2 separate regions of the Homo sapiens genome follow, and region 2 is linked to region 1. The links come from fine-mapping of genetic effects on gene expression. A gene starts in region 1. The other region holds a variant in brackets. All regions are shown on one strand. Distances are from middle to middle.

Region 1 (3,008 bases):
TCAGGACAGTTGACTTGCCCTAGAACCAGGATTCCAATCCGGGAATCTGTTTTAACTATACATGCCTGGTGTTAGGGAATTTAATCCATGAGAAGGTTAGGACATCTAGTGACCAAATGGCCATAGAATTGGCCCCGGGTCTCACTGTGAGACGCATCCCATAGTGGCTTCAGGTAAGTAAATAAATAACACAATTCTGAGAGTCAGTTTCCTCATCCGATAAGTTGAAATTCCTCTGTGTTTGGGTTCAAGGAGTAGGTCTGGAAATGTTTCTTTTCTTCTTTCAGATGGAGTCTCGCTCTGTCGCCCAGGCGGGAGTGCAGTGGCGTGATCTCGGCTCACTGCAACCTCGGCCTCCTGGGTGCAATCAAATCTCGAGCCTCAGCCTCCCGAGTTGCTGGGGTTACAGGCACGAGCCACCACGCCCAGCTAATGTTTTGTATTTTTAGTAAAGATGGTAGTTTCACCAGGTTGGCCAGGTGGGTCTCGAATGCCTGACTTCAAGTGAACCCGCCTCAGCGTCCCAAAATGTTGGGATTGCAGGCGTGAGCCACCACGCCCAGCCTGGAAACGTTTCTAACAGTACTGGGGCAACTCCCTCCCAAGGCCCTGAGGGGCGCAGGAACGAGGTGAGTAGGAATGGCCAGAGCCCCTTGGACACATGGGGCCCCAATCTCGAGGTGTAAGGGTCAGAGTCACCCCGGAAGGAGGTGGAGTGGAGTCCGCCCGTTACCGGCTCACTTCCTTCAGGCTCTCACCCCGATTGTCCTTCAGGTCCTCTACCCACCACACTCCCTATTTCTTCCAATGAAATTGTCCCTGCTTCTTTTTCTCCATATCCTCGCTCTCCTTGCTTCCCCTATGACATTTCTCCTCTCTCCACCTCCCAAAAGTCCCCTCGGTCTTTTCTCTGTTTCTTCCTGTTGCCTTCATTCCCCTCCTTTTAATAAAGTGAGTCTGGAACCTTGGTTTCCCTTTTCTCTCTCCATGTGACTGGTGCTGCATGCAGTTTGCCCTCTCCCCATCGCGCTAAGTGGTTTCACTTTCTCCCTCTGACCCTCGGGGAAACCACAAAGGTTCCCGTGCCTCCATTCCCCCGCTCCAGCCCTCAAGGTGCCGCGTGCCTCAATTTCCCAGGCTCTTTTCCTCCCTCTCCCTGTCCCCAACGCTGACTCCCTCACGGCGTCCCCAAAATGGCGCCCGCGGCCGCGCTCCGCCGCCTAACGTCATCGCGCCGCCCTCCGCTCAGAGTTCCCCTCTGGAGCCGTCGGAGGCGGAGTCGAGGAGGAGGAGGAGCATCCTCTAAGGAGGATTAAAGGGGCGGGCACTATCCACCCGAGGGCTGACCGGTGAGGGAACGACGCTAAAGGATTGGTTGGGCGCTGCGGGGAATCTCGACGCTCCTCACTATTGGCCCAAGCCTCAGAGACATGAACGTCGATTGGCCGAACGGCAGGGCCCGAGCGGGCAATGATTGGTTGCGTCCGGCCGTCCGTGCGGCGGCCGAGGAGGAAGGTGGGAGGGGCGTTGCTGAGGGTAGCTGGGGGCGAGAGCGAGGCTACGGAGCAGGCGAGAGGCGACGGCGAGAGCTAGAGCGGGCGCAGCGTTAGGGTGGCCGTGCAAGGGGAGCCGTGGCCCGGGCCCGGGGCGTGCGAGACGGCGGAAGCAGGTGAGCGCGAGCGGGCGCGCAGAGGCCGGCCGGGCTGCGCTCCCTGCCGCCGCGGCCTCCTCTTGCCAGGTCGCCTGCGCACTGAGGGCCTGAGGGGGTGCGCGCCGGGCAGTTAGGGCGGAGCGGCACCAACGGCCGACCCGGCGCGCGGGCAGCCGGGCGGGGGCCGGGCTGGAGCGGCGGGTGGGGAAGGGGCCTGGAGTCGCGTGCGGGGCTGAGTGAGGAGGGGCGGGGCTCGGGCTGAGGCTTTGGTGGGGCACCTGGGCGGGAAGGGGAGGCCTCAGAGCTGTCCCAAGAGGGCTCCGCGGCTCCCCAGGGTTTGGGGTAAAGGACTTGGTGGTGTGGCAAGTCCAGGACGAAGGGGCTGGGCCGGTTAGACGGCACGTGGGTGCCCAGTTAGGGGCTTAGGGCGTGAGAAAGATAATTAAGTTAATGCAGGGGAAAAATATCTAGTTCTTCCTGGAAAGAATTGGGGCGGTGAGAGGGGTTTTGGTGTGAAGACATTAGGAAATCGATATCCCCAAGGGAACGGTTTAGAGCTAAGGAGGGGTCCAGTTGTAATGGATGGGGTTAAATTAATGTGAAGAGGCCTTAAACCAATGTGTCAGGAGGTTGGGTACCCTTGGAATGCGTGGAAAGGAGTCTTTGTACAAAGAAGGATTAAGTGTATTTTAAAAGGGTGTCTGGGTGTCCCTAGAATGAGCTGGGGAAGGTAGTCTTTTTTAAGTACAGGTAATTAGGCCAAGGTGAAGATGGGATTTGGTTATTGGAAGGGGAGGAAGTAGGGTGGGAGAGATCTGTGTGCTAAAGTGAGGGGTGCCTGGGAATTCCTGGAATGAGACTGAGAGGTTGCTAAGACGCTGGGGGGTCTGAGTACCCCCAGAATAGGAGGCTGGTGAGAGGGGCTTGAGTGTGAGGAAGAGGGGTCTGTGCTGGATTAAGGTGGTGATGGAGGTTCTGTATGAGAATAGGAGGTCCGGGTATCCCTAAAGGGGGTTTGGGCAGCACGAGGGGTGTGTGTAAAAGGAGCTTAAGCCATTGTGAAAGATGGGTGTGTGGATCTTTACACAAAGAAGAGGAGTTATGTTGCTACGAAGAGGAGGGTCTGAGCATCCCTAGAATGGGTTAGGGTGGGTTGGGTCTTCTAGCAAATTAAAAAAGATTAGGTTAATAATGTGGAGGAGGATCTGGATATTCCTGAGATGGATTTGAGGGGGGGCTCTGTTTGCAAGAGAGGCATAGGTTGATATAAAATGAGGGTATGGGCATCCCTGAATGAGTGGCTGTGTATGAACAGGAAGGGTTTAAATCAATGGGAAGAGGGGATCTGGGTATCTCA
Region 2 (2,500 bases), 37 kb before region 1:
CCCAGGGTGTAGGTGGCTGATGGCTCTCAGCTCTGTCAGTAGAAGAGCGTCCCCTCACCCAAAGTCCTGACTCTCCCCAAGAGCAGCCCACGTCCAGTGACATATCAGTGGGTGCTTAAAGGCCTGGCACCCTTACCACAGGGGGAGGTCCTTGACGGCCAGCTCAGCTCCAGAGCTGCCTGTGGGACAGCTAAGGCCCAGTTGTGACTGCAGCGCAGCTCAACTCCTCTGCCCAAGCCTGCTTCCTTCCCTCCTGCACAGGGCAGGTTTCCAGGGGCACGCCATCACACCTCCTGCCTCTACATCTCCATCTCAGAGTCAGCTTCCTGGGACCCTGACCTAAGATCTTCTTTGCCCTTGAAGGCTAAGCTTTATCCTGAGGGCCTCAGGGGCTTCAGTTAAAGCATACAAGTGACAGATCAGACTCACACTGTAGAAAGGTTCTATTGGAGGACAAGCTGGGGAGTGGAGAGACTAGAAGCCAGGAGGCCAGTAAGGAGGCTGATGAGAGGGGTGGGACCTGAATTCACACCATGGCAGTGATGGCAGGGAGAAGGCCAATGTCAGCCATGGCCACTGGGTGGAAAAAATGGGTCATAATTCAAGACAGGCCAAGGAGACCTGTGCCTGGCCCAGGGGTGACTGGCAGGATGGTGGTGCCCCAGGCTGTCTTCCATCTGGAAGTCACTCACCAGCTCTGGGCCACCCTGATGGGGTGCCCACCTTGGCTCTCCTGGTCACTAGCCATGGGCCTGGACATGAAACCTTGATGCCTCACTGTACATTTGAGAAAACGGGGCTAATACCAGTCCCTCTCTCACTGGGTGGCCATGAGGAGTCAAGGATGGAGACAAGTCAGAAAGCTCAGACAAGGGCCTGGCACAGCGTGCCACTCCATCAGTGTACTCCGAGCTTCCCAAGTTCCCAGCTGGAGGGCTGGAAAGGGCACGGGCCTTAAGTCAGACACACCTGGCTGCAGCCCTGTGCACTGGGGACTCCAGATCTCACACTGGGCAGTGATCCTCAGGCCATGAAGGACTGCTATGAAAATTATGTTAAGTAACACTTGAAAAGTTCCTCGCACATGGTGTGAAATCAACAAATGACAGCTGCTGCTGTTGTGATGACGGTGGTGACTATTCCTGTGCAGCT[C/T]GGCACACTCGGCTATCCCACAGCAGGGCAAGGCCAAACTCCGCCTATCCTTCACGCTCCAGCTCCTCCTCCAGTGTTCTCCCTGTAAATGTCATTGCCATCACCCAGATGCCCAAGCCAGACACAGGAGGAATGCTCTCCCTCCTGTCCTCTCCTGCATCCCCCACCCTAGGCAGTCACCAAGCCCTGGTGCTCTTTAGCCCTTCCCCTAGTCTCTAGCTCTGACGTTCTCCCGCCTGAGGCCCACCAGCTCATTCCTTATCTCCTCACTGGTCTTCCTGTTACCACTGCTTCCCCCAACCCCAGGGCCAATTCACTTGAGCCAGATCAAAACCCTTCAAGGGTGGCCGGGCATGGTGGCTCATGCCTGTAATCCCAGCACTCTGGGAGGCTGAGGCAGGTGGATCACCTGAGTTCAGGAGTTTGAGACCAGCCTGGCCAACATGGCGAAACCCATCTCTACTAAAAATACAAAAATTAGCCAGGTGTGGTGGCATGCGCCTGTAGTCCCAGCTACTCAGGAGGCTGAGGCAGGAGAATCATTTGAACCCACGAGGCAGAGGTTGCAGTGAGCCAAGATCACCCCATGGCACTCCAGCCTGCCTGGGCAGCAGAGCCAGAGTCCGTCTCAAAACAAAAACAAAAACAAAACTCTTCAAGGGCATCCCATGGGCTTTCTGCTGAGGCCCAAACCCTTTAGCCCACTCAGTAAGAGCACATCGGGCTTGTTCACCATGGTATCCCCAGGGTATAGCACAGGGCTTGGTATACAGTAGGCACTCAACAAACATTGGCTGAATGGAAAATGGATGAACACACAAATCTATGTATGTGCTGGCCATGCTGGTATGAATAATAACAATAATAAAAATAGTATAATCCCAGCACTTTGGAAGGCTGAGGTGGGAGGATTGCTTAAGCCCAGGAGTTCAAGACCAGCCTAGGCAACAGGGCCAGACCCCATCTCTACAAAAAACACAAAAATTACCTAGGCATTATGGCATATGCCTATAGTCCCAGCAACTCGGGAGGCTGAGGTGGGAGGATCGCTTGAGCCCAGGAGGTGGAGGCTGCAGTGAGCTGTGATTGCACTACTGCGCTCCAGCCTGGGCAACAGAGAGAGACCCAGTCTCAAAGGAAAAAAAAAAAAGGACACACGCATACAGCACCCACTATGCACCAGGCCCTGTTCTAAGTTCTTCACTGCATGTTGTTCTTCAAAACAACCCTATGTGCTAAAGGGCTGTTATTCCCCAATTTTACAGTTGAACAAACTACAACCTAAAGAAATGTTAAGCACTTGCCCAAAGCCACACAACCAGTGCACAGCAGAGCTAAGCTTTAAACA

What was found.
Region 2: its variant is fine-mapped to the expression of ZNF574 in skeletal muscle (GTEx, PIP above 0.99).

Annotation. Positions count from the first base shown.
Region 1 is chr19:42,074,618-42,077,625 of GRCh38, forward strand. ZNF574 (zinc finger protein 574) reads left to right here and starts at 1,549. Exons shown (of 2, transcript NM_022752.6): 1 at 1,549-1,669. RefSeq lists enhancers at 709-778, 859-908, 1,129-1,248 and silencers at 1,619-1,878, 1,889-1,968.
Region 2 is chr19:42,037,695-42,040,194 of GRCh38, forward strand. All of the region lies in intron 12 of GRIK5 (glutamate ionotropic receptor kainate type subunit 5), which reads right to left. Among named protein-coding and RNA genes, the nearest start is that of GRIK5, 31 kb to the right of the region's middle. The variant C/T (reference allele first, on the strand shown) is at 1,153.